Homo sapiens: one gene and its partners. The protein of the gene in region 2 interacts with the protein of the main gene of each other region in a pairwise test. Each region holds a gene or a part of one and is shown on either strand. Other genes may lie near its edges.

Region 1 (3,126 bases), on a different chromosome or scaffold from region 2:
AACTAGGATGGGGTGTCCATTCATTTTGAAAGCAGGACCCCAGCCAGTAAGTGGAGATGGGGAAAGGGACACATAAAAGAGGCAAGGCTGTATCAAAACAGGCTGAGGGTCTAGGCAAGGTGCCACGCCTAAGGGGACTGGGGTGTTTTTGGGCTATGATCAGGTTTAGGCTCTGTCTAGCTTGGGGGTCATCTGGGTGATCTCCCCAGGCATAAGACAGCAAGATTATGTGCAGACACCCCTTGCCCTCATTTCCTTAACCTTACCCTCTGTGACCATCAGTTCCATGCCAGGGCTGCTCTTAGCAGCATGTTAGACCTCTACCTCCCAAATTGCTCTTCCGGCGAAAGGATGGTTTCAGACTTCCACTCTGATCACAGCTGCCCACCACTCCTGCAGGTTTTCCCCACACTTTTTTGATCTCATCAAGGCCTCCAATCTGCTGACTCCCCTTTTTCTCCCTTCCCATCAGTCCAGGCCTCCAATCAACTGATTCCCCTTTTTCTCTCTTCCCATCAGCTTCTCCTGTCCACACTTCTCTCCCTACCTAACATGGGTTTGGAGCCCATCACTTCAACTACTCACTTATTTTTTTAAATAGAGACAAGGTCTCACTATGTTTCCCTGGCCGGTATCGAACTCCTGGACTCAAGCGATCCTCCTGCCTCAGCCTCCCAAAGTGCTGAGATTACAGTCGTGAGCCACCGCACCTGGCTCACTCACTTCTTTGTTCCATTATCCTTCTAGTGTACCTGATGGGCAAAATTTGAACTCTGGATGAACCCAACTGCCCATGGTCAGCATCAAGGTGTGACAAATTGTGGAATCATTCTGCTCAGTGCCACTGAGACTCTAGTCTCTCAGCACTGCCTGGCAACCTTTGCAATGGTCAGCTTGCTCTCCATAGTAACTCCTTCTCCCTCACTTTCAGCAGATGTCCTCATCTTCCACTCTTTCAGAGAGGAATTCCCTTCACTTTCCATCACCAAGTCTATATATCCATATGGATTTTTGCCCATCCTCATCTTTTGCAAGGATATCTGCAACAGCTTTCTAAATGTTTTTCCTACTCACTCCTCTCCCTGCAGTCCATTCTTCATATTGGAGCCAGGGTAATCTTTTACAAACAAAAATCTGATCGTGTCACCCAATCTACAGCATTCCAGTTAATTGATTACATAAACAGTTATGGAATACATAACATATAATATGTTCTAGCACTGTGCCCAGGCACTTGGGATATAGCTAGTGAACAAAATTCCTCTATGTAAAACCCTACACTGACTTTCTCTTCCTCATAATATAAAAATAAAAATCCTTAACATGGCTTCCATCACTCCTGCCTACCTTTCAGTGTGCCACTTATCTCCTCACCCTCTTCCATTTGGCCATACAGATTTCTTTTTTTTTTTTTTTGAGGCGGAGTCTCGCTCTGTGAGACTGAAGTGCACTCCCAGGCTGGAGTGCAGTGGTGTGATCTGGGCTCACTGCAACCTCTGCCTCCTGGATTCAAGCTATCCTTTTGCCTCAGCCTCCCGAGTAACTGGGATTATAGGCATGCGCCATGGTGCCTGGGTATTTTTTGGTATTTTTAGTAGAGGTGGGGTTTCACCATGTTGACCAGGCTGGTCTTAAACTCCTGACTTCAGGTGATCCACCCCGCCTCGGCCTCCCAAAGTGCTGGGATTACAGAAGTGAGCCATTGTGCCCAGCAGGGATTTCTTTTTATTCCTTTAAGTTGCCATAGGACAGTAGCTCAAGGGAGTAGCAGGGTGGGGACATGAGCATATGTAGAGAGAAGAGAGGGAGCTAGTGGAGAGGGAATGATTTTTGAGTGATGAAGGTAGGACTGATGGAACAAAGCAATGGAGAGAGGTGGCCTGGGATCAGAAGTGCACATTGGGATGTAGGATGTTGAAGAAAGAGGGATATTTATTTCTTATGGATAGTCAGGAAAAGAAGAACAGAGAAGAGAAATTTTGAGGTGGAGAGGAGGGAAAAGGAGAGAGCTCAGTTTCTGCAAAACAGTACACAACATTTTCTGCTTGTAGGAAATTGGAGAGGGACGGAGGGGGCCAGTGCTGGAGGAGTGGAGGATGTGCAGTGAGGGGTGCTTTAGGGAGTGGAGGAGATGGGCCCAAGAGATGTTAGGTAAAGTGTCAGGGTGGACTGCAATTGTTCAGAAATTGGGGTAATAAAATCAGCCCTATTAAGACAGACCTCCCAGATTGCTAAGAAGTAATGTTGTTGAATGTTAAAGTCTTTTTACTAAGTAAGGACAGGTATGGTGTTTCCAGGGGATGCAAAAGAAAGATTGCAAAGATCATAGAAGTCCATGAAGGTGCTGAGATTAGCTCTGGGGGAATATTGTTAGCAAAAGATTGCTGAGTAGTCACTTTCATCCCAACTGTTGCTGCTATCACACTCTTTCTGCTTTTTAGACACCTGCTGTCCGTCGGGATGGATAATGCATCAGAAAAGCTGCTTTTACATCTCACTTACTTCAAAAAATTGGCAGGAGAGCCAAAAACAATGTGAAACTCTGTCTTCCAAGCTGGCCACATTCAGTGAAATTTATCCACAATCAGTAAGCATATCCTTACTCACAGACTGCAGTGGGTACTATTAGGTAAAGGGACATATGTCATCAAGTCAGGAATGGCAGTGCACACATGGCTGGGGTGGCCATTCCTTTTCCATGGAAGAAACTGAGAATCATAATACTCTTGACCTCTGAGCTTGGAAACAACCTCTGCATCTTCTCAGCACAGTGGTCCAGGCAGCCCCTAGTAACTGATTAGAGTTGGCATGAGAATGGAAACTTAACCATATCTACATTTTTTTTTTTTTGAGACAGAGTCTCACTCTGTCACCCAGGCTGGAGTGCACTTGCATAATCTCAGCTCACTGCAACCTCCGCCTCCTGGGTTCATGCAATTCTCCCGTCTCAGCCTCCTGAGTAGCTGGGACTACAGTCACATGCCACCACGCCCAGCTAATTTTTGTATTTTTAATAGAGTCGGGGTTTCACCATATTGGTCAGGCTGGTCTCTAACTCCTGGCCTCAGGTGATCCACCTGCTTCAGTCTCCCAAAGTGCTGGGATTATAGGTGTGAACCACTGCGC
Region 2 (4,386 bases):
GCTAAAAAAGGATACTATCTTCAGGAAGCAATGGATCCTAAAATTGACTTTGAAACACTCAACAATTTGCCAGCAACAATACTATATATCATCTTTTTAAAGTTTGTGTTTGACGGCATAATTTTTGACTTATTTCTCTCAGGATTCAAAAAAGAAAAATTTTGACTCATTTAGCCATGAAACAAAGGCCTTTACTTCTCAAGATCAAATCTAAGTTTTCCATGTTAACGTCCCTCATAATCTTGTCAAGCGCTATATTTTAAGGTATTTTAATTGACATAAATGTTCCCGAGACTTCTCACCAATACCAATTTGAACTTTAACACTGAAGGTGTTTAGCAGTCCTTGTATTTTCAAAATTAGAAGCCTTTGCAGGAGAAAATATTCAAATACAAAATTTCAACTTCTGCTTCAAACAACCTATTTTGTTACAAATAAGTGTTTCTGAAGAACCTCTTAATACTTTTCTGTTACCCCCCTTATCTGTTAGTCTGCTGAGACTAGATATTCAAATATTCCAAAAGCCAGAGTGTATGCAAGTTCACTTTCATCTCACTTGTCATAGGAATTTAAACATTAAGCCTCAAAGTATGGCACCCTATATGTCTTTTCAAAAACAACAACAAACAACCACATTGTGACTACTAGATGAGGTAAAATTTGTAATAACAGAATCAAAAAAGTCAACCCTAACTTTTCAGCGCTTGAACTCCCAATCACCCCCACTAAAGGCTTCTTCGTTAACCTTGAATCATAAGAATCACTGATCATCGAGTAAGTAAGTGTTCGGGAGATATGACTGTGAGATCCAGCTTTGTAAATAATTTCTGGATTTTTGGGGCGAGTCATTTCATCTCTCTGATTCTTAATCTCTTCACTTAAAAATGAGGGACTTGGAGTATCAGATGATTTCTAAATTTCTTCTTACTCAAAGTCTATTATTCTGATCCCAAAGAAGAAATCGAATCCTTCTCAATACATCCCAAATTGGATATTCTGGATAAGAAATTTTGAAACCAAGTCACACGAAGAGTATGTGAGGGATAAGAAGTCTAGTTTGGGGAAGGGTAAACATTATGTACGAAAAAGAAATGTCTTAAAAGAAAGCAGGCAGGGTGAGCGAGGAGGCTGAAGAGTCGCTCCATAAACTGAGGCAGAAGGAGCAGCCGACAGCAACGCCTACCGCACCCGGAAGGCTCAAGGAGGCGCCCTGGGCAGGGAACTTCCGGTTGCGGGGAAGGGCGGCGTCCTCTCCTAGGGACTTGTCGCACGCGGCTTCTCGTCGCGTTCCGTCTTGCACGCCTCGCAGCCTAGCTCCGCGCGAGTTCCAGGCGCTCAGCACCGGAGCAGCGCCCCGGCAACCATTGAGGCGTCACGGTTCGTCACGGGATTCGGAGCCGGGCGGCTACGGGCGGGGTGTCGCAGCTCTCTTCGACGTACCTGTCCTCAGGAGCCGCGGCGGCGACTGCGCCTCGGACGGCCGTCGGGGCCGAGAACCATGAGCCCCAGGGGCACGGGCTGCTCCGCCGGGCTGCTGATGACTGTCGGCTGGCTGCTTCTGGCGGGCCTCCAGTCCGCGCGCGGGACCAACGTCACCGCTGCCGTCCAGGATGCCGGCCTGGCCCACGAAGGCGAGGGCGAGGAGGAGACCGAAAACAACGACAGCGAGACCGCGGAGAACTACGCTCCGCCTGAAACCGAGGATGGTGAGGGCGGGAGCTCCCTTGCGGGGCACGCGGAGGCCCCTGTTGACGGAGCAAAGGCCTGCTCTTTGCCTGAGAACCATAATTATGTGTGTTAACGTCAGGAGAGCTCTCTCTCATACTTCAGCCCCGAGTTTGTCCCTTTCTTGCATCCTGTGGCCTTGAAGAAGAATGTGCTCATTCTCCCAGGCCACAGCAAGATACACAGATAAGCACGTATATAGAAATTGCTATAGAAACACTTCTAAATATTGCTTTGGACAAGGAAAAAGATTTTTTTTCAGGGTGGGAGGTAGCCTTCCAACAAGAGGAATCATTTTGACTCCTCTTGCAGTCACTTTCCCTTCTCATAGTAGATTTTTTTTTTCAAGTTCCAAGTTGCTTGATTTCCACATTTGCACTTGGGGTTGCAATGGAATTCAGAATCCCCCTTTACGACGATACACCCAGATAGACCAGTATGCCGACAAAACTGCCCAGAAGCCCCATGGCAGCTTCCTGCAGCTCCTAGCCTTGAGCACCTCTGCATTGTGGTGTTTGATTGGTATGTGCGGCCTCGGACAAAGGAATGGAGCAGTAGAAAACACCTGTCAAGGGATCCAGCTAGTGGCTTTGTTAGATGCTACATATTAACCAAGGAACAATGAGCCCCCCGCTTGGTACATACATTTGCTTTTTTTTCTGCTGGCTCATTAAGCAATAAAACTTGACAGGCTGTTGTACATGTCATATTGATTAGTAACTCACATTCTAGCAGGTAGAAGGTCAGCAGCAGGTTTGCTGCCTTCTCAAGAAAGATTATTCCTTTCCCTTCTAAATGACCCAGCTGCAATTCTTTTAATATTGTTTGCATTCTCATATCTCTTCAGTCTATACATATCGAGTGACTGCTGTGTCTACCAGCCTTTCTTTCATTTCCTGATAGTGATCCTCAGCACCAACAGAAAGAAATGAACTGTCTGAGGTTAACAGTGGGATCGAGGTTTGCACGGCCTTGTAACATTATACTACAGAGAGCTTAAAAAGATCCTTGACTTCGGAAATGTGAAAAAGAAAGATGACTAGGAAAGAAGAGAACACGTCCTAAAGCATAGTAGCTATTGCTTCATTCTCTTCTTTAAAGTAATTGAATTAACAATTTTAGTATTAAACTGGCCAAGAAATACTTCTAGCTATAAAATGCTAAATATTATTTAGGCTAAACTCAGGCAATAAAGTTATAATGTCTTACCTTCAAATTAAAATGTAGGTTAGTTACTTATTCTCTGAGTCACAGTTTCCTCATCTACGGACTTCAAGGAATCCATGTACTTTGTGGGATTTTAATACATACTATTTCATGCATAAGTGCTTTTTCTTGGGGAGCGAGAGAATCCAAAACTTTAAACAATCTGAGGTGTTATAGGTCTGAAAATTTCCAGAACCATTATTGAAATTTGCACTGTCCCCTTAACCCTCAGTGGATCAGTAGAAACAGTTATCCCCATTTACTATCCAGTGGACCTTTAATTTTTTTTTAGTCATTTAAAAATAATTTACAAATAAGAATAAAGGGATAGTGAAAACAACTGTGTTAGAAATTTCAAGAAGAATTTAAACATGGAAAAATTCAAATTTTTATTCCATATATCCTAGTTTTGAAGGTGTATGTACTCTAACTGGGCAAAGTACTTTGAATGCAACTAAGTGCTCAACTGTTAAGCATGAACCTGGAATGCATTCATCATGTTAATACTGATTCCAGATTTTGAGTGCATCGTTAATAAATTCTAGCTTATCATTAATCTTGGTTCTTTTTGCACTTGTATTGTCAAAAAAACCAACACTTTTGAAAACTACAAAGGCATATATTTTGTTGAAGAGAAAGCCATCTTCTTTTCTTCATAATTGGAAAATATTTTCATCTTTAGATTTATAAACACCAATTAGAATGATTGGTCCAATGAATTTTACTCATTTCTACATAATCTTTTCTTTCAGTCACCTTTATATACATATCTTTCATCACAATATGTTCATTTACAAACCTTGGCAAATAAATGTTGGTGCATAAACGTTATAAAAAGGGAAAGAATACCGTCCTCATCCTTTTAGCGAAACAGTATGGCACAAGTTATTGTCACAGTATATTTCAGGATTAAATCTTTCCTGTTGTCAGGCTAACTACATGATAATACCATATATTCTTTTCATCCCCAGAAATATAATGTTTACTCATCAATTCTTAAGTTAGAGAAAATTCATCTAGTATATTCATCCAAGATAATCATCATCTCTCATTGAGATTTTGCTTATACAATCAATTTCATCATCATCATTAGCATCCAAAGTGCTGTTATCTGTCTCTTTTCATCTTCTGATTCGTTCAATAATTGTGAAATGTTTTTCTCTGTCAGTTTTCTTCTCTTTGCCATTATGGGCAAAAAATGAAAAATTGTGAAATCTCAACTGTGTTCAATAAAAGCCAAAAATAGACTACAAGGAGGATACCTCTAGACTTCTTTTGTATCTTCTTGAAAGATGATGCAATATCTTGGGCAAAGCAATATGAAAACATGGGATGTTGTAAAATAGCTTGTGTTAGTGTAATTCTTTCACCATTACATTATTTTTCTAGGCAATTCCAATCATTCTTTCATTTTTAAATTTTAGTCATTTAAAAATGTAGTTGAAAATAATGAGC
Region 3 (2,568 bases), about 64 Mb from region 2:
AATGCTTCGATTTTGGGGGGCACAAGAAAGCCCACTGCCAGAACAGTCAATCCGAGGATCACAAAAACTGTACCTGAGATGAGTCCAACCTACAGGTAGATAATGACAGAAGCAAGATAGAGTGAGGAAGGTGCTTCGGCTCGCCCCTGAGCCCTCAAGGGCAGCACTTGTCTTGTTTCTTGAGAGAAATGAATATTCCCAGTTACCCCAAATTTGCAGGAAACACTTACTTAATTTTCTGTTGAAAAAGGTGAAAGATGATCTTTCTAATTTTAATGCCAACCAAAAACTCCAGCACTCAGCCTTGAGATATATGTATATATCATATATATATATTATATATCTAAAGATATACATATATTGTATATCTAAAGATATATATATAATCTTTATATTATCTAAAGATATATATAATCTTTATATTATCTAAAGATATATTATATATAGCTAAAGATCTATATAATATATATGTCCAAAGATATATATATTATATATTATATGTCTAAAGATATGTATATTATATATATATCTAAAGATATATATAAAATATATAATATATATTATATACCTAAAGATATATATTATATATAATATATATCATATATCTAAAAGTAGATATGTAATATGTAAATATATATATAAATATCTTTTTTTTTTAAATTTGTACAATGCTTTGCAGTTGACAAAACCTTCTTTTGCTTACATTGTCTCATTTGGTCTTGAGGAAAAGAAGAGTAGCCCTGATATCCAGGAGCTGGCCTTACTCTGTCCCCTAGGCCTCGACATTGTTAGAAGCTGGCTAGGAGCTCACAGCAAGGCCATGCTGTTCTGCCAGGCACCATCTCACAGAACATTAACACATGCTCATTCTGTGACCATGATGAAGTGAGACAAAACAGTAGCCCTTCATAACTTTGTCTAAGCACAGACAAAAACAAGGTCCTTGTAAAAACCACAAAATACGACATGACCCCCGCTCCTGGCTAATATGAATGACACCTACTTCTTTCTCATGATGGCTTTAGTCTCACTCTAGTCTGTCCTCTCTATACATAAGATATATTAAGATATCCAATCATAGAATTGTCCCTAACAATCCAGAGTGAACTCTTGCTTCATTAGACCCTCCCCAAAATCACCCAACCAGAGCCCACATCCTATAATATTATACATCCTTTTCACACTCTCATATTGCAATGCCCCACAGTCCCCTATGGTGACATTCTTTCTTACTGTAATGAGTAATACATCCAACTTGTTCAACATATAGGTGTGTTCCTGGTGGTTTTGGCTGGAGGACATGGACAGTCTTTGTAACTACTCACCTCTTTTCAAAGTAAGCAGAGAAGGAACCTTAATGGCCAGTTAAGGTAAAGAAATGTAGCGTCAGAGAGGGTAAGTCATGGACCAAAGATGGACAGCTAGCAAGCTGCAGAGGCAGGGTTAGAACCCACAGAGCTGATCCCCAGGCCAGTGTTCTTTCTCCTCTCACATGTAGCTATTTGGGGTATACTTGTGCAGGTGCTAGGAAGTGTTCAGAATAGCAGATGGAGGTTAAACTGCATTAGCTCAAGTTCTAATGAAATGTAACATACTAAAGATGGAAATGATGTACCATTTGGTGGTCAATGCCCATAGGTTTGAAATAAATGGACGCATGCTTCGATTCTACCACCACCACCTAGCACTTGAATCATAGAAGGAAAGTTACTTAAAAGCTCTTGTCATTAATTTCCCCATCTATAAAATGACAAATGCTCATAATACCTACCTCATAGAGGACTTGTGAGGACTAAATGAGACTATCCATAAAAGCACTTAGCCTTGTATCTGGCAAAGTTATACATTGTATCTGGCAAAATTATAAATTGTAATAAGTAGCTATTCTTCTTATTTGGAAAGACACCCCTTGAAAAATTGTTATGCTACATTGGTAACAGTATTACGATTGCTCAGCACTTGGAATAAGGAATAGCTAACACCATTACTTTTTAAAGTAATTTTTCCTTTCCTTCTGTTCTTAATTGCTTTTAGTTAGAATAACAAGGTTAGGAAAATAACCAGATACATAACATAAATTAATCTTTAATATTTAAATTTTTGAGATAATATACTAATAAAGGAGGCTTGGCTAATAGAAGGAAAACGTATCCACAAATCTATCACCCTAGCAAAAATGGGAAAAGTATAACTGGTATTATTGAACATCTATTATGACCTGCACTAATGCTAGATGTGTTTTTTGTTTAATCTTCACAAGCATCTTATGAGAAGTAGGTATTTTTATTCCAATTTCACCTATAAGAAACTGAGGATTATAAGGTTAAAGAAGCATACTTTAGCCGGGCATGGTGGCTCATGCCTGTAATCTTAGCACTTTGGGAGGCCAAGGTGGGTGGATCATCTGAGGTCAGGAGTTTGAGACTGAGAGGTGAAGCCGGCTGGGCTTCTGGGTCGGGTGGGGACTTGGAGAACTTTTCTGTCTAGCTAAAGGATTGTAAACACACCAATCAGTGCTCTGTGTCTAGCTAAAGGTTTGTAAACTCACCAATCAGCACTCTGTGGCTA

What was found.
Region 1: the proteins of SPACA1 (region 2) and CD72 interact in binary tests that used the Homo sapiens proteins (3 or more experiments, as listed by UniProt).
Region 3: the proteins of SPACA1 (region 2) and NRSN1 interact in binary tests that used the Homo sapiens proteins (3 or more experiments, as listed by UniProt).

Annotation. Positions count from the first base shown.
Region 1 is NC_000009.12:35,612,309-35,615,434, reverse strand, and holds part of CD72 (B-cell differentiation antigen CD72), read left to right. Parts: intron 1-2,441; coding exon 2,442-2,587; intron 2,588-3,126. UniProt on the Homo sapiens protein: Co-receptor of B cell receptor (BCR) that plays both positive and negative roles on B-cell functions. Recognizes the Sm/ribonucleoprotein (RNP) self-antigen ligand, and coligation of CD72 and BCR inhibits BCR signaling.
Region 2 is NC_000006.12:88,046,408-88,050,793, forward strand, and holds the start of SPACA1 (sperm acrosome membrane-associated protein 1 precursor), read left to right. Parts: upstream 1-1,433; 5' UTR 1,434-1,498; coding exon 1,499-1,706; intron 1,707-4,386. UniProt on the Homo sapiens protein: Plays a role in acrosome formation and establishment of normal sperm morphology during spermatogenesis. Important for male fertility.
Region 3 is NC_000006.12:24,143,069-24,145,636, reverse strand, and holds part of NRSN1 (neurensin-1), read right to left. Parts: intron 90-2,568; coding exon 1-89. UniProt on the Homo sapiens protein: May play an important role in neural organelle transport, and in transduction of nerve signals or in nerve growth. May play a role in neurite extension. May play a role in memory consolidation.